Linked DNA regions of Homo sapiens: all the other regions are linked to region 1. Evidence: fine-mapped expression QTL. A gene starts in region 1. Each other region holds a variant in brackets. All regions are shown on one strand. Distances are between the middles of the regions.

The links.
Region 2: its variant is fine-mapped to the expression of ZDHHC6 in whole blood (INTERVAL, PIP above 0.99).
Region 3: its variant is fine-mapped to the expression of ZDHHC6 in lymphoblastoid cells (TwinsUK, PIP 0.95).
Region 4: its variant is fine-mapped to the expression of ZDHHC6 in monocytes (Fairfax 2014, PIP 0.95).
Region 5: its variant is fine-mapped to the expression of ZDHHC6 in whole blood (INTERVAL, PIP above 0.99).

The regions. Positions count from the first base shown.
Region 1 is chr10:112,444,047-112,449,150 of GRCh38, forward strand. ZDHHC6 (zDHHC palmitoyltransferase 6) reads right to left here and starts at 2,868. Exons shown (of 11, transcript NM_022494.3): 1 at 2,659-2,868; 2 at 1,124-1,604. The coding sequence starts at 1,390. VTI1A (vesicle transport through interaction with t-SNAREs 1A) reads left to right here and starts at 3,169. Exons shown (of 8, transcript NM_145206.4): 1 at 3,169-3,421. The coding sequence starts at 3,328. RefSeq lists enhancers at 2,655-2,774, 2,975-3,234.
Region 2 is chr10:112,388,382-112,393,485 of GRCh38, forward strand. All of the region lies in intron 1 of ACSL5 (acyl-CoA synthetase long chain family member 5), which reads left to right. Among named protein-coding and RNA genes, the nearest start is that of ACSL5, 17 kb to the left of the region's middle. RefSeq lists silencers at 1,098-1,227, 1,248-1,297. The variant C/CA (reference allele first, on the strand shown) is at 2,987.
Region 3 is chr10:112,414,783-112,419,886 of GRCh38, forward strand. ACSL5 (acyl-CoA synthetase long chain family member 5) reads left to right here. Exons shown (of 21, transcript NM_203379.2): 13 at 2,106-2,240; 14 at 3,064-3,159. Among named protein-coding and RNA genes, the nearest start is that of ZDHHC6, 30 kb to the right of the region's middle. The variant T/TAAAAA (reference allele first, on the strand shown) is at 2,419.
Region 4 is chr10:112,365,936-112,371,039 of GRCh38, forward strand. No RefSeq gene overlaps it. Among named protein-coding and RNA genes, the nearest start is that of ACSL5, 5.6 kb to the right of the region's middle. The variant TA/T (reference allele first, on the strand shown) is at 2,684.
Region 5 is chr10:112,423,109-112,428,212 of GRCh38, forward strand. It overlaps ACSL5 (acyl-CoA synthetase long chain family member 5), which reads left to right. Exons shown (of 21, transcript NM_203379.2): 18 at 2,230-2,373; 19 at 3,150-3,251; 20 at 3,680-3,751; 21 at 4,110-5,104. The coding sequence ends at 4,250. It also overlaps a transcript of ZDHHC6 not described here. Among named protein-coding and RNA genes, the nearest start is that of ZDHHC6, 21 kb to the right of the region's middle. The variant TA/T (reference allele first, on the strand shown) is at 2,487.

The sequences.
Region 1 (5,104 bases):
CTGTAGTTTTTCTTCAGCACAAACCGTGTATTGTCAAAATAATATTCCTATAATACACCTCTGACTGTGTCAGACTCTGCCTGAAAACCCCTACAACTTTCTATGGTCTACAATTTCTCATGTATTTAAGACTGTCACAATCTGCCTTTGTTTCAGCTGTCTCTGCCCTACATGATCTTTTCCCCAGTCACACAGGGCTGTCTACTGTTTCTGAATACGTGGTCCCACCATTCTTTCAACCTGAAATGCCCTCTTCCCCATCTCCTTTGGAAATTCCCACTCCTCCCTCAGGTCCCCAACTAACAATGCTCAATTCTTCTAACTTTAACAGCACCCATCACGTTCTACTTTATAGTTTAGTGATTTGCACAAGTGCGTTTGTTTCTTGCTTAGGTTATAAGCTCTTTCAGAGTTCAAATTACATCTTACCCTCCTCTGTACGCATTTTGAATAGTACATAGCACATGATATACACCAGTGCTTCCCGAACTTTAATATACCTAAGCATCACCTGGGCACTTTATTAAAATAAAGATTCTGCTTCAGTATGTCTGAAGTGGAGCCCAAGATTCTGCCTTTCTGACAAGCCATCAGGTGTGGTCCCTTAGCAGGAAACATGGACATTCATAAGCATAAATTTCCCAGTAGTTTTTAAGCTATAAATGGATTTGGACTATACTTCCCAATGTTATATTTTCAGTGCAATGATTTTAAAACTTTATGATTTAAACCAGCAGTTTCTAAAGCGTTTTTCTCAGTTCTAAGGGATGTTAATGTATTACATGAAAAAAGGTACTACAGCCAAACCTCACTGTGTATGACATGTGATGTTTCCTAAACTTTTGACCATGAACCTATCCCACCTCCACCCCACCTCCATCTTTTTTTTAATGCAGAGCAAATATTCAATAAAATTGCTTTGGAAAATGCTATTTTGGATCAATGTGTTCAAACAGATATGAAATAAAGTCTCCGAGCCTAAATGATCAGTGATTAGAGTAATATACTTAGTCTCTGTGAGGACAAACAGTAGGCTGTGTTTGGTATTATTGGTTAGTAGATAAGGCAAAAACCAAATATACGATTATCATTAAAGTTCATTGTCTTACAGAATCTTTCTTACCGGTTTCCACCCCAGAGGGACAAAGCCCGGACCGACAAACATGGCATTGAAGTAATTATAAAGAATCATGACAGTCCAATTTATCAACATGATGAAATTCACACTTCCTCCAGTTGTATGTAAGGGCCAATACCACAACACAGAGTCAATCATGGCCATGGTAGAACATATTGCTATAACACCAAGGGCTATGATGGGACCCCAGTGACACAGTCTCTTTAATTCTTGTAGATTTTCAAACTTGATAACCGAACAGAATGTACCCATTTTGGCAAGGAAGAATGCCTTCCTACTTTAAAAGAATTATAGATTTCCTTTTTCTGTGCGCACATTTCCATGTGCCACAAGTCCATGTGTGTTCTTTAATTGTCATGCCTTCAAGCTGTGAACTGTTAACGCAGATTACACCATTTTCACTGTCAGGCACCCAAAGCTCTTTATCTTAACTAGGAGAATCCAGTGTCTTGGTCTGAAACCCAACCTAAAGAAAACAAAATGGGAAAGTTCAGTTAAAACAAAACAAAACAAAACCTTTATTGCATACCATACTTGTTAACTACAATAAACACCTACACAACAGCATCTCACAAGTGCACTACACTTTGGGATGCATATCTTGTCAAATGTCAAAAAGAACTACTTTTGACTTATCCAAAATATGGTACAAGTTTGAATGGCATGCAAACTGGATACACGATTCCAAAATAGTTTTTTTTATTCCTTCTCCGCTTGTCAGGGGACTGTCACCATCCAACGCTTAGTGAATAGTTTGAGAAGACAAAGAATTTTAGGACCTTAGAGTTGATCTAATTCAGTTTCCTTCTTCATAGAACAGAAATTGTCTTAGAGAGGCTGAGTGATTAGACCAAGGTCACAAGTAACAGGTGAACCAGAATAGAAGGCAAGTCAACGACCTCCCTTTATGAAATTCTAAGCTGCCTCTTATGAAGTCTTGAATTAAGCCAAGTATGAGTCAGACATGGTCTATGCCATTTGCCTGCAGTCTCCTCCACCCCGCCACCCAAACATCAAGAGAACAGTCAATTTGGCCCAAAAGTAAAGGAGCGACAGTGAAAGCAAAGAGAGCATGCAAGGAAAGGAAGGGAGGAGATAGAGCGAGAGTGTGTGTGGTGTGTGTGAAATTATGACCAGAAGAGTATATGAGAAGAACCTGAATTAGAAGATTCGAGGGAAGAAAGAAGAGGAAGTGCCTCCAGGAGCGAGGGAAATGGAAGGCAGGGCGGCGAGCTCCGGAGAGATTTGTGGAAGGGCATCTCTGCCTGGACTGGATCTGAAGATCTGGAAGAGGATCTGAGCTACATGGATAATACAGACTACCACGCAGCAGACGCTGTTGACTTGTGCCTCAGTTTCCCGCCCGAGTCATGGAGCAGAGGGCTTAGAAATAAATCCTCACCCAAGGAAGAAATATCCTGGTAAGCCAGGTTGGTCTCAACATTCAGGAGAGCCTGCTCCCACTCTGGTGGGACAAAGACCACCAAAATCGTGCTTATATTCCCTGCCTTGACTCCCACCTCAGTGTGGTCCCTGGTGTCTGCTCCTCAGCCATCGCATATCCGGGGCGGCCTGGGCTCACCCGGAACAGATTTTTTCCTCCTTGGATGACTCCGTCATGGACACCTCAGCCCAGGACAAGCAGAGAGCAAACCCTGGCAGCGAGAGGCTGGAGTGCGGGACCTGCTACAAGCCGAGCACCTCTCGGCCAGCGCCCTCGCCAGGACTCTCCCGCTCAGGCCCCCTGCGCAGTCTCTGTTACTGTCACTTCCGGAGGTTCGCCGCCTCAAACCTCCCTCCGGAAGCAAGCTGCTGTGCCTTGTAGCGTGTGGATCCGGAGCCGATTCCCAGAACACGAAGGGGGGAAAAAACGCTTCTAATGATCCCTCAGAACTTGCATATTTTCATACGCTTTTCTGGGGGGAGGCACTAATTGGGGCGCTTTTCCTTTGCGAACTTACTTATCTTAAAGTCGGAGCGGAAAATAAAGCACGCACGCAACCCAATTTCCGGAGAACCGAGATTGCGACGAACAACCAGGAAGCGGCTGGGTTGAGAGCTGTCCCCGGTTCTCCGTTCTGCTCTCGGGGGCACCTTCCGGGGTTCCTAAGCCGCGGGGCCCCTCGCTGCCCCTCGAGGCCCTTTCCCTGACCTAGGCTTTGGCCTGGGCTACTCGTTCCGGAGCCGCCATGTCGTCCGACTTCGAAGGTTACGAGCAGGACTTCGCGGTGCTCACTGCAGAGATCACCAGCAAGATTGCGAGGGTCCCACGACTCCCGCCTGGTGAGAGCCTTGCCCGGCTGGACGAGGGTGCTGGGGAGAGCTGGGAGGGTGCGGGCGGTGGAACGCCGCCCGAGTAAGTGTGTCTATGAGGCGCGAGGCTGGAGTGGGTGGTGCCGGCTGTTCCCAGGAGGGATACGGCTTGGCTTGGTTGAGGGTAAGGAGTCAAGTTCGGGTGTGGGGTGCCGTGAAAAGAGCCTTCGGAATCTGAGCCATCTGAGTTCGAATCCCGGCTCTACCTTCTTGTAACTTGCATAACCTGGAAACGTTTCTTAACGTCTTAAGAGTCTTAATGTTTTCATTTGTAAATTATAGACATGTGAGTATTCAAAGAAAATGAATGAAAGTATGTAGCCTATGGATCTACAATCTACAGCGGCGTTGTTGTGTTAGTAATAATATTGTTATAATTATATGCGGCAAAATAGAGGTAAGAATCAGGGTGCCTAGATTCAAATCCTACCTCTGTCACTTAGAAGTTGTGCCTCTTAACCCGGGAGGCGGAGGTTGCAGTGAGCCAAGATCTCGCCATTGCACTCCAGCCTAGGCAACAAGAGTGAAACTCCGTCTCAAATAAATAAATAAAATAAAAGTTGTGCCTCTTAAACAGACTTCTTAGTCTCTTTCAACTTTCCTTCTTAGTAAATGGGGGAAAATTGTACTTCTCTCATGGGGTTGTTAGGTAGATTAAATTTATATAACATATTTAAAGTCACTTTTGGTGTTGTTAGTTGCTGTATTAGCATTAGTATTTTTCATACCCCCCACCCCCATTTCTTGTTTCTCATCCTTCTTGGGGATTTATTGTATAACCCAGTTTCATGTAAAACTTGGTACAAGATAATTTTTCACACTTAAAAATTTCACATCTCCCATCTGGAAATGTTTTTGTTTTTGTGTTTCCTTTTGTGTTTTAGCACATCTTATTTTCTATGCTAGACTGTCAACTATGTGAAGGTGGGAGCTGTGTCTGATTTCCTTGGCGTTTACTTATTAGGGGCTCAGGAAAATAAGTGAATGAGCAGGTGAATATAAATATGATCTTTTGTAACTATGGTTTGTACAATGTTGATTCGGGGACTATCTTTCTCTACAGATTAGAGTAGTTAGTTACAGAAAAGGGTTTTACATTTTTGTTTAGTTTTGTTAGGGAAATTGAACCATCATCTGGCTGCTAGACTTGTCCCTACCCTAGCTCCAGGATATAAAGTGTAGAAAGGTGGATGTGCTCATTAATCTGCGGATTGGTGGGCACTTCACTTGCCCACTTGTCCTGGTACTAGCAATAATTTCTCCCGGACCTAAGTTGTCATTCCTCTTTCCCTTTCCCTACTTCCCCCAAAACTTATGTGTTTATAAGTAATTTTCTTCCCTTATTTCTTTGTTTTTCTTCCCCTCACCTATTTTCTGTTAATAGGGATATTTGCTTGAAGCCAGGATCTCTGAACTTATACCCCACTCATCTCCTGAAGTCCCCAGTTAGTTCTGGAGGAGATGGATGATGTCTTAAAGAGGTTTATGAGTCCAAGTAAGGGAACAAGAGGAGAGAACCAAGGTAGTATATACCACCAAGCTCTGCTGCCTCAGAGATTTTTGTGTCGAAAGTGGCTGATGGCCTCATCTCTTCATGATACATCACCTCGCCTCTTCTCTTCAGTTCTGCTTTTCTCCACTGCCGGAGATCGT
Region 2 (5,104 bases), 56 kb before region 1:
ACCATCCCTATCCAATACCTTACCAAAGTATTGATTAGGGAGCAATCCTCTCCAGATTGGCCTGAATGACTTCTTATGATCTAAGATTTGGGGGTTTAAGGGTGGGGTCTTTGTACTGCAGGGAAAATGAGTTAACTGAGAGTATATGGAATAAACAATTGTGACCTGGAAAACTGTTCATTTGCTCAACAACCACTTGTTGAAAGTTTTTTATGTGCCAGGCATGGTGGGGGCATCAGAGACACAGCAGTAAACAAAATTAAAATCTCTGTTCCAAAGAGAACATCAGCTCAGTTGGCACAATGAGTGATAAGGAGCTAGGACTATTTCCCAGTGAACAGTGTCATGGAGAAGAGAACAAAGTCCATGACACTGACTGGAAAGGTAAAGACAATATTCAATAAGGTGATCAGAAACAGTGAGCCTCCGAGGAAGTGACATTTGAGGTGAGGCCTGACCTATCAGCAATACACAACCATTTCAGATCTGGGGAAATGTTCCAGGCAAAGAGAAGAGCAAATACAGAGGCTTCCAGATGGGAACAGACTTCGAATAGGGTTTGAGTGGGATATATACATAGGAAAAATACAATCTTTTAAAAGATAGAGACTATCAAAAGAAAATGATTTTTAGCCAATAGGGATAGTATGAAAGATTCATAGCAATAAACATAGTTGACCAAAAATTTAAATATTAGAGTAGAAGGAGCCATTTAGGACATTTATCCAAAGAAAAGGAGACTAAATGAAGACATGCTGCCCCAAGTCCACAAAAGGAAAAAAATCCGAAGCTGAATATGGGGTGATCATAACCTAGACACCAAGAATGGTCCAGGAAGCATGCACAGAGGTGTGAAGGCAGAAGGCGTCCTTCAGCTAACTTGGGAATAAAACATGTTAGGAGCCAGGAGATGAGTGACTGTGGCTCCAGTCATCCATCCACAGGAGAGGGGAAGGCCCTGGAGTGGATCAAGGACAAGGATGGTGGACAAATGGGCATCCTGGGGTCTGAGGCCAAGGCATGTCACCATCACCACGTCAAAAAGTGGAGTAAGCCTTTTGACATGGGACATCCTGGTGTGTACTGGGGCTTGTTCAGCTATTTGTATATTACGTGAAACAGGAAATCCCAGACACAGCATGACAGAGCCCTCTTTCCTCTTTTCTTTACCACTATTGTGCTTTTCCCTACCGTAACCAGGAGTGATGTTAAAAGGAAGAGGAAATGCCAGTCACGCCCACTGCTTACAGGGGATTCTGTGGAGTGACTAAACCAGAGCTGTAGTTTGAGTCACACAGGACGTGTGACAAAAGGAGGGTGACTTTTTTCCCCCTTGTTTCTTTGAACTTACTTGGAAGTGTTAACAGATTCTAATGGTTAGAATGGTAAACAGAGCTTCCTACTCCTGTCGTGGTTTGACCCAGGAGTCTCACCTTCTCTCAGGCCCTTAGTTTCTTCCACTTAAACAGTGAGAGAGTTACATGATATGGTTGCAAATCCTCTCAGCGCTAATCTTGTAAGGTTAAAAATGTTTGAGTGTATTGGGCATTAAAAAGGAGACTATACACCAGGCACAGTGGCTCACGCCTGTAATCCCAGCACTTTGGGAGGCTGAGGTAGGAAGATCACTTGAGCCCAGCAGTTCAGAACCAGCCTGGGCAACATAGTGAGACACCATATCTAAAATAAAATTGTTAATTGTAAAAAAATAAAAATAAAAAAGAGATTATCAAGATAGTAAAAAGACAACCTACAGAATGGAAGAAAATATTGCAAATCATATCTCTGATAAGTGTTGTGTGTATATATATATATGACCTAATTTTTAAATGGGCAAAAGACTTGAGTAGACATTTCTTCAAAAAAGAAATACAAATGGCCAAGAAGCACATAAAAAAATGCTCAACATCCTTAGTCATTAGAGAAATGCAAATCAAACCCACAATGAGGTACCATTTCACACCTACTAGAATGGCTATTTAAACAGACAAAGAGAAAGTAGCAGTGTTAGGGAGAAGGGAAAGAAATTGGAACCCTCTTACATTGCTGGTTGGATATAAAATGGTGCAGCTACTGTGGAAAACACTTTGGTGGTTCCGCAAAAAGTTAAATATAAAATTCGCATTGACTCAGCAATTTCTCTCCTAGGTCTACACCCTAAAGAACTGGAAAAAGATATTCAAACAAAAACTGTATAGAAATGCTCGTAATAGCTTTGTTCACAATATCAAAAGTAGAAACAACCCAGATATTCATCAACTGGTAGATAGATAAATAGATAGATAGATAGATAGATAGATAGATAGATAGATAGATAGAGTGTAGTCTATCCATACAATGGGATAACATTGAGCCATAAAAAGAAACGAAGTACAGACATACTACCCCATCAATGAATCTTAAAAATTATACTATGTAAAAGAAGTCAGACACAAAAAGTCACATATATGGTTTCATTTATATGAAATATTTAGAATAGATAAATCCATAGCAACAGAAAGCAGCCTAATCCTTTCTCTAGAGGCTGGGCATTGAAGGGTTTGTTAATGGGTTCAGGGTTTCGTATTTTATGGTGATGAAAATGTTTTGGAACTAAATAGATGTAATGGTTGCACAACATTGTGAATGTACTAAATACTGCCCGATTGTACATTTTAAAGTGGTTAATTCTACATTATGTAAATTGTATCTCAATTTTTTTAAAAATTGAGGAAGGGCCAGGTGCAATGGCTCATGCCTGTAATCCCAGCACTTTGGGAGGCCAAGGCGGGCGGATCACCTGAGGTCAGGAGTTTGAGACCAGCCTGGCCAACATGGTGAAACCCTCGTCTCTACTAAAAATGCAAAGTTAGTTGCGCATGGTGGCAGGCACCTGCTACTCAGGAGGCTGAGACAGGAGAATCGCCTGAACCTGGGAGGCAGAGGTTGCAATCAGCCGAGATCATACCACTGCACTCCAGCTGGGCAGCAGAGCCAGACTGTGCCT[C/CA]AAAAAAAAAAAAAATTGAGGAAGGAACCATGTGAAATTCTGTGCACCTCCTACTTGAGTTGGATACCTGGTCAGTGGTAGCAAACTAAGCAAGCTATTTCCATTGACAAATACAAATAAATCCTTCCTTCATTGTCTTCCTCAAATAAAATCCCTTGCCAATATAGGCAAGGTATTTTCATTCTCATGAAACTGTGGCTTTGAAATGTGTAAATATCTCCCTTGTTTGTAATGAAGTGGTCAGTCTCGTTCTGTTTGTGGGCAATATGATTGAAGTCTGTCTCAAAGGAGTAGTCAAACATTAACAGACCGTGATCCAAATTAAACTATGAAATGTGTTCTTGTTTATCCCATGCCAGACTCTTAAAAACGGTTGTTAGTTAAAATTGAGGTTTCAAAAAATGCAGTCTTCTGGATTATCTAGGGAGGGGGCAGAATTCTGACAATCTGTGACCCATAGTATTGTTACTATATGGTAACAATCACCTGAGATTGACAGCAGGTGCCCCCTTGAGACGCCATAGATTCTCTGTCCCTTTTCTCCCATATGTATTACCAGTCAGGTTATTCACTCTTCTTCCTGACCCCACCCCCATATCACCACAACTGAACAGAAATTCAACTTTTAGACTCTGATTCAAAGACATTGTTTGCAAAGTCTCCTATTAAAATATAAATGTGCCATCTGGAAGAAGAGGGCAGAAATCCTTAGTGCAACCATTTTTTTCCATAGTCGAACAGGAGGGTGTTGGTAAGGATCTCTTAATTTGTGGGTGGGATTGAGGCAGAGGGAAAAAGCCCAGATAAAATATCACCAGCTTGGGGTGGTCGTGGTGGCTCACACCTGTAATCCCAGCACTTCGGGAGGCCAAGGTGGGAGGACCACTTGAGCCCAGGAGTTTGAAACCAGCCTGGGCAGCATGGTGAGGCTGTGTCTTTACAAAAAATTAAAGAATTGGCCAGGTACGGTGGCTCACACCTGTAATCCCAGCACTTTGGGAGGCCAAGGTGGGAGGACCGCTTGAGCCCAGGAGTTTGAAACCAGCCTGGGCAGCATGGTGAGGCTGTGTCTTTACAAAAAATTAAAGAATTGGCCAGGTACGGTGGCTCACACCTGTAATCCCAGCATTTTGGGAGGCCAAGGCAGGCGGATCACGAGGTCAGGAGATCGAGACCATCCTGGCCAACATAGTGAAACCCCGTCTCTACTAAAAATACAAAAAAGTAGGCCGGCATGGTGGCAGGCACCTGTAGTCCCAGCTACTTGGGAGGCTGAGGCAGGAGAATGGCGTGAACCCGGGAGGTGGAGCTTGCAGTGAGTCGAGATTGTACCACTGCACTCCAGCCTGGGTGACAGAGCGAGATTCTGTCTCAAAAAAAAAAAAAAAAATTAAAGAATTAACTGGGTGTGGTGGCACACACCTGTAGTCCCAGTTATTCAGGAGCCTGAGGTGGGAGGTTCACTTGAGCCCACGAGGTTGAGGCTGCAGTGAGCCAGAGTTGTGCCACTGCACTCCAGCCTGGGCAACAGAGTAAGACCGTGTCTCAAATATATATATATATATATCCAGTCTTGTCACAATATCCCAGCCTGAAGGGAGTGGCTGGTGGCAGACTGGATGGGAGAGCACAAAACAGGCACGGGCTTCTCCTCCCCTTTGGTACTGCCACCTGCTTTTTCAATTTCACAGTCTTCCCTGAGGCAGTCCTCCCTTCTCTGCCTGGGCTTTATGGCTAGTTTTTGAATGCTTTTGCCTCCTGGAGTACCTCATCATACAAGTCCAAGTAAGGCTGAATTCCAAAAATCCCAACTCTCAGAATCCTGCCAGGTGGTCACAATAGCACCCTTGTTTTTATGTAACCTAGCACCCATGGGACCTGGCTTTTATTTTTGTTTTTACTTATTTTTCTCCCCCTAAATGCAATATGGAAAGAACCAAGGAGTTGAGGACTATTATCCCAGTTTCTGGAAGTTCAGTTTTCTCCTCTAAAATGGAAAGGGACTCTCCAAAATCAGGTAATAACTAATCGAGAGGCAGAAAGATAGTAAGAGTGGCCCAGGGTTTCTTGTGACTGTTCCTGCCCCCACACAAAATTCCTGCACCTTGTGGCCTTTCT
Region 3 (5,104 bases), 29 kb before region 1:
AATTCTTAGAGTGTCTGATTGCTTCAGGGAGCCGTTGAAGCTATTTGAACCCAGGCAATATAGTATGTGATGATTCCTCGGGCTGGGATCCGTGAGGAAGTAATGCATGGCCATTCTTCACATGCTTTGGAACCCTCCCCCACCTCCCCAACCACCTCCAAGATTTTAACTCTTCCTTTCACTCTTAGGACTCTCAGCAGATGCTAAATGGGCTCTGGTGACAGGGCAGGCAGTGTTCTAGCAGAACTGATAACAATTCCAGCAGTTTCTTACCATGCTACGCAATTAGTAGATTTGGTGGTTGTTATGGTTTTTGTTCATATGTTGTTGTTGTTGTACATTTTTTATTTTTCAGAGATAGTTATTGTATAATATAATACCTAATACACAGTTCACTTCTGGAATGTATTTTTTTTTTGTTTTGTTTTTGTTTTTGAGACGGAGTCTCGCTCTGTCGCCCAGGCTGGAGTGCAGTGGCACGATCTCGGCTCACTGCAAGCTCCACCTCCCGGGTTCGTGCCATTCTCCTGCCTCAGCCTCCTGAGTAGCTGGGACTACAGGTGCCCACCACCACGACCGGCTAATTTTTTGTATTTTTAGTAGAGACGGGTTTTCACCGTGTTAGCCAGGATGGTCTCGATCTCCCTGGAATGTATTTTTAAAATGAAGGACTTTATTAGCACACGTCTCTAATACTAGCTCTTTGTCAGTGACTTGTTGAGGGAGGGTGAGTCTTGTGAATGTTGAAGAAAGATAAATCTCTTTTAGTTGAGGGAGATTCTAAGAATGGCATGATGCAGGAAGCATTTGAGCATGGATCTTGGAGACAGATTATGACATACTGGTACAATGATAATGTTATAGGCATAAGAAGATGCTTATGTCCTAGAGCACAATTTACATTAGAAGATGAAAATTATCACCCCTGCTTGGCTGGAGGCCCAAAAATGGGGTTATAAACATGGAAGATGGATGGAGAGGGATTCTTCAAATTTTGAACAAGAAAAAAGACTTCAATTGCCTTGAATCTGACTTCCAGTAGGGTGGAATCTTGAAAGCCAGATAAGAGTTCAGGACTAAATTTTGGAAATAAGGGGTCACTTTGAGCTGTACTTGGGGAAGCTCTCCTTTGGCAGGAGTGTGGTTGATGGAATGTAGGGTCACAGTGAGGTCAGAGTCAGGGAGACCAGGGAAATCATGCGAGCTGGAAAAATGGTGTCAGAATTAAGCCCAAAGGGAAGAAATCATTTTAGTAGGAAGGTAGGAAACTCTGTTGGGGTTTGTATGGTGTGGCTAAAGACACCTTGTTTATAGGGAAGGGTGGGAATTCTCCAAGTTCAGTTATATAAGCATTACAGAGGGAGAGGGAGGAAGACATGATACTTGTTTTAAAAAATCAGATTCCTGGGCCGGGCGTGGTGGCTCACGCCTGTAATCCCAGCACTTTGGGAGGCCAAGGCGGGCAGATCACGAGGTCAGGAGATTGAGACCATCCTGGCTAACATGGTGAAACCCTGTCTCTACTAAAAATACAAAAAGCTAGCTGGGCGTGGTGGCGGGTGCCTGTAGTCCCAGCTACTCAGGAGGCTGAGGCAGGAGAATGGCGTGAACCTGGGAGGTGGAGCTTGCAGTGAGCCGAGATGGCGCCACTGCACTCCAGCCTGGGCGACAGAGCGAGACTCTGTCTCAAAAAAAAAAAAAAAAAAAAAAAAATCAGATTCGTAGGCTGCCCTTTGACCTACTAAATCAAAAGCCCTAGAAGTGGTGCCCATTGAGCTGTGTTTTTTGTTTGTTTGTTTGTTTTAAATCTAGTACCCCCCAGGTGACTTTTTAGGCAGTCCCTCTTTATCTCAGTTGTCAAGTTGTTTCCCAAGGACTAAAAATTGGGGCAGGAAGTGGGAGGACTGGAGCTCTGCATTAAGTTCACTTCTTTCTGAGCATGGCCATAATTCTCTGGGCTCATCATTATTCAGCAATCCAATTCATGACTGTGAGACTGTGAGACCACTTCCTTATAAAGCTAGAACACACTGTTTCTTGCTCACTAATGGCTTTGATGAGTATCTCCAATAGGTTTCCAACTAAAAGGAGCTATCACTCTGCAGGTACAAAATGAGGCCAAGACACCCTTGAAGAAGTTCTTGTTGAAGCTGGCTGTTTCCAGTAAATTCAAAGAGCTTCAAAAGGGTATCATCAGGCATGATAGTTTCTGGGACAAGCTCATCTTTGCAAAGATCCAGGTAGGTTGGGCAGGTCCTGGACTGAAGCAGGCAAATACCTGGGCTGCCTTCTGACTCCTTAGACCTTGCTTTTCCTCTGCTGCTTGAGCGTCACTTTAACTAGAGATCCTTTCAGACTTTGTGTCCACTGCCTTTTGAGATCTTTCTTGTACCACTTTACTACTAAAGGGAGTAGGTT[T/TAAAAA]AAAAAAAAAAAAAAAAGCAGGCTGAGTGTGGTGGCTCACACCTGTAATCCCAGCACTTTGGGAGGCCTAGGTGGGTAGATCACCTGAGGTCAGGCATTCAAGACCAGCCTGACCAACATGGTGAAACCCAGTCTCTACTAAAAATACAAAAATTAGCCGGGCGTGGTGGTGGGTGCCTGTAATCCCAGCTACATGGGAGGCTGAGGCAGGATAATCGCTTGAACCCAGGAGGTGGAGGTTGCAGTGAACTGAGATAGCACCACTGCACTCCAGCCTGGGCAGTAGGGCCAGACTCTATCTCAAAAAAAAAAAAAAAAGTTTTATTTAGGTTCTAGCACTCTCTCTTATTTTCTTTGGTGGTCTGTTGAGATTATAAGCAATTTGAGGGGCTGAAGAATACAAATTATTTGAGAAATATATGGCTTCTGGTCCCAGCTATGGATAGTGATGACAATAATAGCTAACATTTTAAGTGCTTTTCTACAATCCAGACTGTATTCTAAGTGCTTTGTAAATTAACGTGAGAATTGATGTCAGTTTAATTCTCATAACAACGCTGCACAGGCTATTATACCCACTCTACAGTGGAGGAAATTGAAGCCAAGAGAATAGGTTTTAGTATGTCTTTTGTTTCCACTGAACAGGACAGCCTGGGCGGAAGGGTTCGTGTAATTGTCACTGGAGCTGCCCCCATGTCCACTTCAGTCATGACATTCTTCCGGGCAGCAATGGGATGTCAGGTAAGCCAAGCACCTTCTTTGAGAATAGGCTATTTTACTTTTGCACAAACAGGCTCACTGTTTAAATAAAAATGAAAACAACTAAAAGGTACCAAAATGAAAGTCACCTAAATTCTCAAAATCCAAAGAAAATATCCTTCTAACCATCTCTTCAGGCATCTGTGTGTAGAAACCTTCACATAAATAAAACCAGTGCTCTAAAACACTTGTTAATGTTGCTCCTTGTCAAATAAAGCTCAGCATCATTTTAATGATTTCACAGTAGTTTACTGAATGTAGTTGACCCTTGAACAATGCAAGAGTTAGGATTGCCTACCCCCATGGCAGTCAAAAATTCATGTATAATACTTGACTCCCTAGCCGGGCATGGTGGCTCATGCCTGTAATCCCAGCACTTTGGGAGGCTGAGACGGGCGGATCACGAGGTCAGGAGATAGAGACCATCCTGGCTAACAAGGTGAAACCCTGTCTCTACTAAAAATACAAAAAAATTAGCTGGGCGTGGTGGTGGGCGCCTGTAGTCCCAGCTACTCGGGAGGCTGAGGCGGGAGAATGGCGTGAACCCGGCAGGTGGAGCTTGCAGTGAGCTGAGATTGCGCCACTGCACTCCAGCCTGGGCAACAGAGCAAGACTCCATCTCAAAAAAATAAAAATAAAAAAAATACTTGACTCCCCAAAAACTTAACTACTAGTAGACTACTATTGACTAGAAGCCTTACCAATAATGTAATTAATCAACACATATTTTGTATATGTATTATATACTGTATTCTTACAATAAAGTAAGCTAGAAAAAAGAAAATGTTATTTAAGAAATCATAAGGAAGAGAAAACATATTTACTATTCATTAAGTGGAAATGGATCATCATAAAGGTCTTCATCCTCACTGTCTTCATGTTGAGTAGGCTGAGGAGGAAGAAGAGGAGGGGTTGGTTTTGCTATCTCAGGGGCAGCACAGACAGAAGAAAATCCACCTATCAGTGGAGCTGTGCCATACAAACTTGTGTTGTGCAAGGGTCAACCGTACCCAAATAACTAATCTCCTATTAATGGACACTTGAGTTGCTTATGATATTTTTCATTGTTATAATCAATTAATAATCTAGAATAAATCCACGCAAGAAGGGATTATTGGGTCAAAGTAATACACACAATGTATCTGTGTGTGTGTGTGTGTGTGTGTGTGTGTAATAATGTATATTATCAAACTTTCTTCCAGAAAGATCTTTTTTGCACATTTCTGCAAGTATACAAGGCCTTATTTGCCCATGCTCTTGCCAGTGACAGACTTTATCAGTCATTCAGATATTAGCTAATCAGATAAATGAAAAATCTTATTACAGTTTTGTTTCTTTTATTTACACCAAACATCTTTCTATTGCTTATTGACATGTATATTTTATCCATGAATTATTCTATTACTTCCTTATAGAAAAACAGGCAAAAGATAATTTGGTCCTTTTTTATATTTCTAAGAGTTCTTCACAGAGTAATACAGGTTGAGTATCTCCCTATTTGAAATGCTTGGGACTAAAAGTGTTTTGAATTTTGCATTTTTTTCCAATTTTGTAATGTTTGCATTATAAAACAGTTGAGCATTCTGAATCTGAAAATCCAAAATCTGAAATGCTCCAAAAAGCATTTCCTTGGAACATCATGTTGGCACTCAAAAAGTTTTGGATTTTGGAACATTTTGGATTTCAAACATTTGGATTAGAATAGTCAACCTGTAATATTAACTTTTGTCATGTTGGAAACATTTTTCCTGGTCTCATCATTTTTGCCCTGTGTATTGCCATATAAAAATTTCCAATGTTTTTATAGTCAAACTAAATAATCTTTTCTATTTGTAGGTTTTAAACTGCTTAGACAGGACTTCCTAACCCCCAATATTTCATAAGACTGTTTCACCCTTATTTTCTGGCAAACTTACCATTTTCCATT
Region 4 (5,104 bases), 78 kb before region 1:
CTGGGTGTGATGGCAGGTGCCTGTAATCCCAGCTACTCGAGAGGCTGAGGCAGGAGAATTGCTTGAACCCAGGAAGCAGAGGTTGCAGTGAGCCAAGATTGTGCCACTGTACGCCAGCCTGGGCAACAGAGCGAGACCCTGTCTCAAAAAAAAGGACTTCATTAGGTTCAGTGGTCTCTGGAATCTGGACATATTCACTAAGACCTTTAAGTAACATTTGGTTGCTCTGCCTGACTCGTCTCAACCTGCTGTGAAATCTGCTTTGCAACCAGCTGTGCTTCCTAAAGAAAGGCAGATTTTCAGAGACAAGCTGCAAATCACTTGGCTTTGCAAAATCGCCTGAAATTATTAAAAAATAACACTTGGCCCCACCACCGTCATCACTCTGTTACCAAGCTATAGGATCTTGGGAAGGGATGTCATTTCTCTGAGCTTCTATTTTTCTTGTCTGTACAAATCATAACTACCTTCCAAGTGTATTGTGAGGGTCAAATGAAGTGTTTGTCACAGGACCTGGCTCCCAGCAGCCACTGGAAGTTTGGATGTTGAAAGTATTGTTCCCACTCAGACCTCACAGGTTTGCTAAGAGGCAAACTAGAAGCATTTTATAAACCGGGAGGAGCTATGTGAATGCATGATGGCACTATGTAAAGTTAGTCTGCTTATATTGTCTGTCTTTCTCTGCTTTCTAAAACATGGGGGGCTGGGTGCGGTGGCTCACACCTGTAATCCCAACACTTTGGGAAGCCAAGTCAGGCAGATCACTTGAGGTCAGGAGTTCAAGACCAGCCTGGCCAACACGGTAAAACTCCATCTCTACTAAAAATACACAAAAATAATAATAATTTAGCCAGGCATGGTGGCAGGTGCTTGTAATCCCAGCTACTCGAAAGGCTGAAGTAGGAGAATGGCTTAAACCCAGGAGGCAGAGGTTGCAGTGAGCCAAGATTGTGCCACTGCACTCTAGCCTGGGCAACAGAGTGAGACTTCATCTCAAAAGTAAAATAAAATAAAATAAAACGAGGGGAAAGCCTGGTTTCTGTTTCTGAAGAGTTGCCAGCCTCTGCCATTAAAGATAAAATGACTATTTCCAGGCTGTGTTACAAAACTCTAGAATGTTAGACTCTAGTATTCTAGAACAACATTGTGTAGTACATGTGTGGTTTCTTTGGCCCTAGGAAGAGGGTGGGAGTGTATACAAACAGTTCCCAGCAGTGTGGTTGTGAGTATGTCAGCATTGTAGCGGGATTGTATACAAACAGATCCCAGCAGCATGGTTGTGAGTATGTCAGCGTTGTAGCTGTGGGGCAGACTCCTCACTCCTCCAGACCTCACCTATGAATGACCTTAAAAGTGAAAGTTTGTACTTTTTAGGGGCTGCAGGATGCCCAAGCCTAAAGGTTATTAATTTTCGTATTGGATTCTAAATGGATATGGCTGTAGGAGGGGAGGGAGTGACAGAGCGTGTTGCAAAGAAGCTTATCTAACACGTTTTTGAAGAGAGAGGCTGTAGGAAGCAGTGGTTTATCGAGATGGTGTAGCCTGCTCGGGCACTGGAGACCTGGGTCCTGGGCTTATCTCTCTCATTAGTTAATACATCACCTGAGCCAGCTGCCTCACTTTTTGGCATTTTAGGTACCCTCACAAGTAAAATGACTGTTGTTGGATCAGCTGATGTCCCCCACACACCCACTCTCATACCCACCTGGGCTGTCTAGTGGTGATGCTGTGAGTTTTGTTTTATATTTCCCTAAAGAGGTGCGACCGTGACTGCCGATACCTCCTGCTGTGGCCAAAGCACTTCTCTGAGACTTGGCCTGCTGGCTGCTTTTGAAGACCACCTCTCTCCTGGAGCATCTGAGGAGTTCCATTCTGTGTCAAGTTTTCCCCCCACCTGCAGGCTCACCATAGCCAAGACTACCCCAAATGCAATCCCTTGTGACATTTCAGTAGCCGGGCCCTTTGAAGACAGGATAGCTGCTTGAAGCAGAGATGATCCTAAATGTGGTCCAAGGGTGGTCCCCAGAGCAGCAGCATCCGTATCACCTGGAATTGTTAGAAATGCAGATTCTTGGGCCCCAGATCAGACCTACGGAGTTAGAAATTCTAGCCAGAAATCTATGTTGTAACTAACAAGCCCTCCATGGGGATTGTGATGCTGAAGTTTGGGAACCACTGGCTTGGAGTATCTTACTCTCCAGTAAGTGTGGTATCAAAGGAGTTCAGTGGGTTGCTACTTAACACAACTGGACTCTAGTCCAGTCAAGTAGTTGTCACACCCCTAGTCCCCATTGAACTGTGTCTTCTTTAGCCACTTCTTAGAAGCCCTTTTCTTTCACATACTAAGGAAGGACTAAGACTCTAGCAAAAACGTGACCTTCAAGAGTTAATGAACAGACTGGGTGCAGTGGCTCATCCCTGTAATCCCAGCACCTTGGGAGGCCGAGGCGGGCAAATCACCTGAGGTCAGGAGTTTGAGACCAGCCTTGTGAACATATAGTGAAACTCCATCTCTACTTAAAAAATGCAAAACTTAGTCAAGCATGGTGGTGCACGCCTGTAGTCCCAGCTACTTGGGAGGCTGAGGCAGGAGAATCACTTGAACCCACAGGGCGGAGGTTGCAGTGAGCTGAGATCACACCACTGCACTCTGGCCTGCGTGACAGAGCAAAACTCCATCTCT[TA/T]AAAAAAAAAAATAGTTAGTGAACCAGGTTGGGTGCAGAGGCTCATGCCTATAATCCTAGCATTTTGGGAGGCTGCAGTGGGTGGATGACTTCAGCCCAAGAGTAAGAGGCTAGCCTGGGCAATATGGCAAAACCCATCTCTAGTAAACATTTTTAAATTAGGTATGGCGGTACATGCCTGTAGTCCCAGCTACTCTGGAGGCTGAGGTGGGAGGATAACCTGAGCCCAGAAGGTGGAAGTTGCAGTGAGCCGAGATTGCACCACTGCACTTAGCCTGGGTGACAGAGGAAGACCCTATGTCAAAAAAAGAAAAATCCTGTGTTTTGAAGAATCCAGGCCTCTGTGGCTCAGCAAACGTAGGTGGCTGGAGAGAGGACGGACCGTTACCTAAATGGTGTGGTGGCACTGACCTGTAGTCCCAGTGCTCAGGAGCCTAAGGTGGGAGGATTACCTGAGCCCAAGAAGTCAAGGCTGCAGTGAGCCATGATGTTGCTACTGCCTGAGTGACAGGAGTGAGACCCTGTCTTAAAAAAAAAAAAAAAAAAAAAAAACGGCCAGGCACAGTGGCTCACACCTGTAATCCTGGCACTTTGGAAGGCCGAGGCAGGCAGATCACTTGAGGTAAGGAGTTCAAGACTAGCCTGGCCAACATGGTGAAACCCCATCTCTACTAAAATACAAAAATCAACCAGGTGTGGTGGCACACATCTGTAGTCCTGGCTACTCCGGAGATTGAGGCAAGAGAATGTCTTGAACCCCAGGAGGCAGAGGTTGCAGTGAGCCAAGACAGACCTGCTGCACTCCAGCCTGGGCAACAGAGTGAGACTCCGTCTCAAAAAAAAAAAAAAAAAAAGTTAATGCACATGAGAATCTGACCTAAGAAGACTTCTATGTTAATATGCTAGTCTCTCCTCCACACAAGAGTCAACAGGAAGTGGTATTAGCTTCTGATTTTGGTATTGGTCACCTGACCAAATACAGTAAGTGAGAGGTGACAGCGTGCTGGCAGCCCTCACAGCCCTTGCTTGCTCTTGGCGCCTCCTCTGCCTTGGCTCCCACTTTGGCGGCACTTGAGGAGCCCTTCAGCCCGTGCTGCACTGTGGGAGCCCCTGCCTGGGCTGGCTGAGGCTGGAGCCGGCTCCCTCAGCTTGCGGGGAGGTGTGGAGGGAGAGGCGCGGGCAGGAACCGGGGCTGTACGCGGGGCTTGTGGGCCAGCGAGAGTTCCGGGTGGGCGTGGGCTCGGCAGGCCCCGCACTCAGACCAGCAGGCCTGCCCCGCTGGCCCCCGGCAGTGAGAGGCTTAGCACCTGGGCCAGCAGCTGCTGTGCTTGACTTCTCGCTGGGCCTTAGCTGCTGCCTCCCTGTGGGGCAGGGTTCGGGACCTGCAGCCTGCCATGCTTGAGCCTTCCCCCACCCAACCCCACCAGCCATGGGCTCCTGCACAGCCAGAGCCTCCCCGACGAGCACCGCCCCCTGCTCCACGTTGCCCCTTCCCATCGACCTTCCAAGTGAGAGGTGACAGCATGCTGGCAGCCCTCACAGCCCTCGCTCGCTCTGGGCACCTCCTCTGCCTGGGCTCCCACTTTGGCAGCACTTGAGGGGCCCTTCAGCCCACTGCTGCACTGTGGGAACCCCTTCCTGGGCTGGCTGAGGCCTGAGCCCGCTCCCTCAGCTTGTGGGGAGGTGTGGAGGGAGAGGCGTGGGCGGAACCGGGGCTGCGCATGGTGCTTGCGGGCCAGCCCGAGTTCCGGGTGGGTGTGGGCTCCGCGGGCCCTGCACTCAGAGCGGCCGGCTGGCCCTGCCGGCCCCAGGCAATGAGGGGCTTAGCACCCCGGCCAGCGGCTGCAGAGGGTGTGCTGGGTCCCCCAGCAGTGCCGGCCCACCAGTGCCGGCCCACCAGTGCTGTGCTGGATTTTTTGCCAGGCCTTAGCTGCCTCCCGGCGGGGCAGGGCTCAGGACCTGCAGCCCGCCATGCCTGAACCTCCCCCACCCTCCGTGGGCTCCTGTGTGGCCGGAGCCTCCCCGACAAGCACCGGCCCCTGCTCCACTGCGCCCAGTCCCATCAACCACCCCAAGGGCTGAGGAGTGCCGGCTCATGGCGCGGGACTGGCAGGCAGCTTCACCTGTGACCCAGTGCTGGATCCACTGGGTGAAGCCAGCTGGGCTCCTGACTGCTGGGGACTTGGAGAACCTTTATGTCTAGCTAAGGGATTGTAAATACACCAATCGGCACGGTGTATCTAGCTCAAGGTTTGTAAACACGCCAATCAGCACCCTGTGTCTAGCTCAGGGTTTGTGAATGCACCAATGGACACTCTGTATCTAGCTACTCTAGTGGGTACTTGGAGAACCTTTGTGTCCACACTCTGTATCTAGCTAATCTAGTGGGGACGTGGAGAACCTTTGTGTCTAGCTCAGGG
Region 5 (5,104 bases), 21 kb before region 1:
ACCCAGGAGGCGGAGCTTGCAGTGAGCCAAGATCACACCACTGCACTCCAGCCTGGGGGACAGAGCGAGTCTCTGTCTCAAAAAAAAAAAAAAAAAAAAAAAAAAAAAAAAAAATATATATATATATATATATATAGGCTGGAAGTCATGAGATTTGTGTTCTGGTTGCAGCTCTTCCATGGATCAACAATATAAAATTCTGAGAAAGTAATTTAACGTGTGAATAGGAGCTGCCAAAGCTAGAAAGTCTTTCTTAAAAAAAAATTTTTATAGAGATGGGGTCTCGCTGAGTTGACCAGGATAGACTCAAACTCCTGGCCTCAAGCAATCCTCTTGCCTTGACCTCCCAAAGTTCTGGGATTGCTGGTATAAGCTACCACACCAGAAGTACTGCCAGAGTACTTTTGGTATTTTGATCACACTGTTACAGAAGACACCAAGATGTAGACCAGTTGAAGTGTTTTCTTCTTGCCTTATTCCTTATCGAATATACAACCAGCAAGCAGTAAGTCAGTGATCCTAGCACTGTTTTTAGACCCAAACTGAAGGTGGGATTCTTTAACAGGTCAGGTAGACCTGCACATCAGAGTTGGCATGGGTCCCCTGCAATGGAATAAATTTGCTACCAGCCAGGGAAAAATTAGGTGACTTCTCTAGGAAAGGGGAAGGGAGATGTACTACTCTGTCCTTTTTTTTTCCCCCTTAACTTTTCTTGAGGCAGAAGTTGTGGTTTGAAGCCAAGTGTGGCAGCTCACGCCTATAATCCTAACACTTTAGGAGACTGAGGAGGGAGAATTGTTTGAGGCCAGGAGTTTGAGACCAGCCTGAGCAACATAGCAAGACTCTGTGTCTACCAAAACAAAACAAAACAAAAACCCAAAAAACTTTGGTTTGATAATGCCGTTGGTCCACAGCTTTTGCCTCTTATGAGTTTCTTGGGATAAATATCCTCCCTATTAATTCACAGGCATATCAAAACAAGGAAGAAGGATTTCTAAATCAAGTGTTTGCAGAGGCTAGTGTTTGTCTCTCATTGACCTTCACAGCCCCTTTCTGTGGAAGATACAGAGACATATTTTTAGCATAGCTTGATAATTAGCAGTAGTTGCTATTAGTTTTCCTAAGAAGAAAGGAAATTATTGCAAGGGCAGTGATGGGATTTCCCAAAAGATCTTCCCTCTCAAAAGTTTTGTCTTAACTATGTGCTGGGGAAGTGGGAATGTCACTAGAACTTAAAACTCCTTTCTTGCTCAATCAATATTTAAGATTTAAGTGAGATTTAAGGAATGCTTGACAATGTAACTTTTAAGAACACTGGTCCTAACGATGCATTTTATTGATTTGGGTTTGGTAGTATCTTGCTAATATATTTGTTTCTGTCTAGTAACAGAATTAAATAACACTCTAATAAGCCTAGGATGTAAGCAACAGATATGTCCCCACACCAGGGTTATAGAAGGCTGCACCTTATTAATCACTTTCAGATAATGAACGTTAGGCTGAATTGATGGCTAATTTATCAAGTCGGCCTTGTGATAGTTCCAGTGTTGGTTTAGTTAGTCGCCCTACTTAGGGTGTTAGCATGTGGATTTTATTTGCCATTTGTCCCAATTCTACAATTCAAATCCCTAAAGACCTAAGCTCCTCAGACCAATTAGTTCAGAGAAATGAAGCTGCAAATGACCTTTGGTGGCTGGTCAGAGTCCTCTCAGCCCTGTTGCTGTCCTAACAAGCCCAGTAATTGAGTTGCTTGATTAGCACAGTGGAGCTGTTTGAGCCTGCTCCCGGATCTAACAAGGAGGAAAACATAACAGGGAGTCAAGTGGTGGGAGAACTATTCAAATCAAATCAAAAGTCTAAACAAAAGACAACACCTCTATTTCTGAGAGTTCTGAAAATGAACTAATTGGAAATTAGTGATTGGAAATTGAGAGCTGTGCAATTTCTTCCTTGGATGAGGCATCAATTTGCATAACTCCAGTAGATCCAGGAGACTTTCTCTAAGGCTGCGCATTGACTCTCCACATAGATATACAGTAAAGACAGGTTCTTGCTGCACGATGCTTCCCTCCCCTTTCACCAAAGCCAAGAAAGAGAAATGAAAGACAGCTCAAAAGTCTCTGGAGAAATCAGCTTTAGAGAAGAAAGATGACTGTGACTTCACCACTCTCCCCACTGATATCATCTCTGTGGCTCAAAAATACTGATACTTTTATCTGTCTCATGTAGAATGGAACTCTGAAGATCATCGACCGTAAAAAGAACATTTTCAAGCTGGCCCAAGGAGAATACATTGCACCAGAGAAGATAGAAAATATCTACAACAGGAGTCAACCAGTGTTACAAATTTTTGTACACGGGGAGAGCTTACGGGTAATATATCATTTTAACAATAGCCCATTTCAGTCACAAACCATGCTGGTTCTTGTAGCTACAGGAAATTTGTATAGTTGGGTTCAGAATGAGAAGATCCAAGCTTATAAAAC[TA/T]AAAAAAAAAAAAAAAATGAAGTTACATTCCAAACCTCAAATAAGGCAATTTCAATTTAAAAAATTTCAAAACTATGATGGACGTTGTACACAAGTCAGTAGAATTGTTTAGAATGGCTATACTAAAAGGTAATGATTCAGTAAAAAATGAGCTCCACATTGCACTTAGTTCCCATTCCTTAAGGAGTTCCTTAAAGCTATGTTTAAGAGCAGTATGTATAAAACAACAAACTGTTGCAATATATATAAAGCAACAAACAAAAGTTTGATCAACAAACTGTTGTTTTATACATACTATGCTTAAACGTAGCTTTAAGGAACTCCTTATCCCAAAACAACGAACTGTTTTATACACACTGTGCTTAAATGTAGCTTTTAGGGGACAAGGGGAGAGTTGACATGGACAAGCCAGAGGCGCTTTAAGCTTAATGTTGAAGGATCAGATTTGAATGGAACATCTTTGTAATGAGATATTGAGTGGGAAAATGGGATTACAGTTCCATGGTGTTGAAAATATATGGTGAGAAAAGAACACTAGTACTGGATTTAAGGTTTTGGGGAAATAACTATTACAATGACATAATTCTGCTTTATTTAACTACTGGGGGACATCCCTACATAACTTCTCTCATGCCCTTGCACCTTTTATTTCCTTTCCATAGTCATCCTTAGTAGGAGTGGTGGTTCCTGACACAGATGTACTTCCCTCATTTGCAGCCAAGCTTGGGGTGAAGGGCTCCTTTGAGGAACTGTGCCAAAACCAAGTAAGTCTTGCCTAGGAAAGCTTTATGCACACCCATGGGCCCATCGTGGAGGAGAGGATGCCTCACCAGTTCCTGCATCTGTCACAAGTGGCTGCAGCCCAAACAGACTGAATAGTTTTATGGGACTCGGGGATAGGATGGAGAGTTTAAAAAATAAAACTCTCTTTTCTATTTAAAATAATATGTTCATTGTGGGAAAAGATTGGGAAAGAAGAGTAAAAATGCTATTCAGAGAAAACTGTTAACACTTAGATGTGCCTTTTCTTCTCAGTTTTTCTTTCAATATTGGGCATATAATGTGCTTGTGCATAGTTTTATATTCCTGCTTTCATACTGCATGGCTTTGACAGGCACTTTGAGTTGGTTCATGCTTAGCCCTTCAGGCTTTTTGAAACAGCCATGCTTTAAGTGATGTTTTGTATTCTTAGGTTGTAAGGGAAGCCATTTTAGAAGACTTGCAGAAAATTGGGAAAGAAAGTGGCCTTAAAACTTTTGAACAGGTGTGTGCTACCACTGATGTTATACTGGCCTCTTGTCAGAAAGTTTTGTTTAAAGTTTCCATCTAATGAGGTTTAAATGTATAATTTCTAAGGAATTGATTTTAGATTTTGTGCCATTAACTACAAAATGACCTTTTGTAGTTACTTGTACAGCGCCCTTTTTTTGCTGTTTATTGTCCATTCTCCCTTCTCCCTACTCATTACTTTCTTAAATTATGTTTGTGGGAATGGGCATGTGTTACTGTTACCTTTACCCTTTCACTGCATCAACCTCACTTTCTTCACAGAGCACTCAGGGGGCTCTGCAGAGAAGTCCAAATCACTAATGAGCATGGATGTGTGTGTGTTCATCTTCCAGGTCAAAGCCATTTTTCTTCATCCAGAGCCATTTTCCATTGAAAATGGGCTCTTGACACCAACATTGAAAGCAAAGCGAGGAGAGCTTTCCAAATACTTTCGGACCCAAATTGACAGCCTGTATGAGCACATCCAGGATTAGGATAAGGTACTTAAGTACCTGCCGGCCCACTGTGCACTGCTTGTGAGAAAATGGATTAAAAACTATTCTTACATTTGTTTTGCCTTTCCTCCTATTTTTTTTTAACCTGTTAAACTCTAAAGCCATAGCTTTTGTTTTATATTGAGACATATAATGTGTAAACTTAGTTCCCAAATAAATCAATCCTGTCTTTCCCATCTTCGATGTTGCTAATATTAAGGCTTCAGGGCTACTTTTATCAACATGCCTGTCTTCAAGATCCCAGTTTATGTTCTGTGTCCTTCCTCATGATTTCCAACCTTAATACTATTAGTAACCACAAGTTCAAGGGTCAAAGGGACCCTCTGTGCCTTCTTCTTTGTTTTGTGATAAACATAACTTGCCAACAGTCTCTATGCTTATTTACATCTTCTACTGTTCAAACTAAGAGATTTTTAAATTCTGAAAAACTGCTTACAATTCATGTTTTCTAGCCACTCCACAAACCACTAAAATTTTAGTTTTAGCCTATCACTCATGTCAATCATATCTATGAGACAAATGTCTCCGATGCTCTTCTGCGTAAATTAAATTGTGTACTGAAGGGAAAAGTTTGATCATACCAAACATTTCCTAAACTCTCTAGTTAGATATCTGACTTGGGAGTATTAAAAATTGGGTCTATGACATATTGTCCAAAAGGAATGCTGTTCTTAAAGCATTATTTACAGTAGGAACTGGGGAGTAAATCTGTTCCCTACAGTTTGCTGCTGAGCTGGAAGCTGTGGGGGAAGGAGTTGACAGGTGGGCCCAGTGAACTTTTCCAGTAAATGAAGCAAGCACTGAATAAAAACCTCCTGAACTGGGAACAAAGA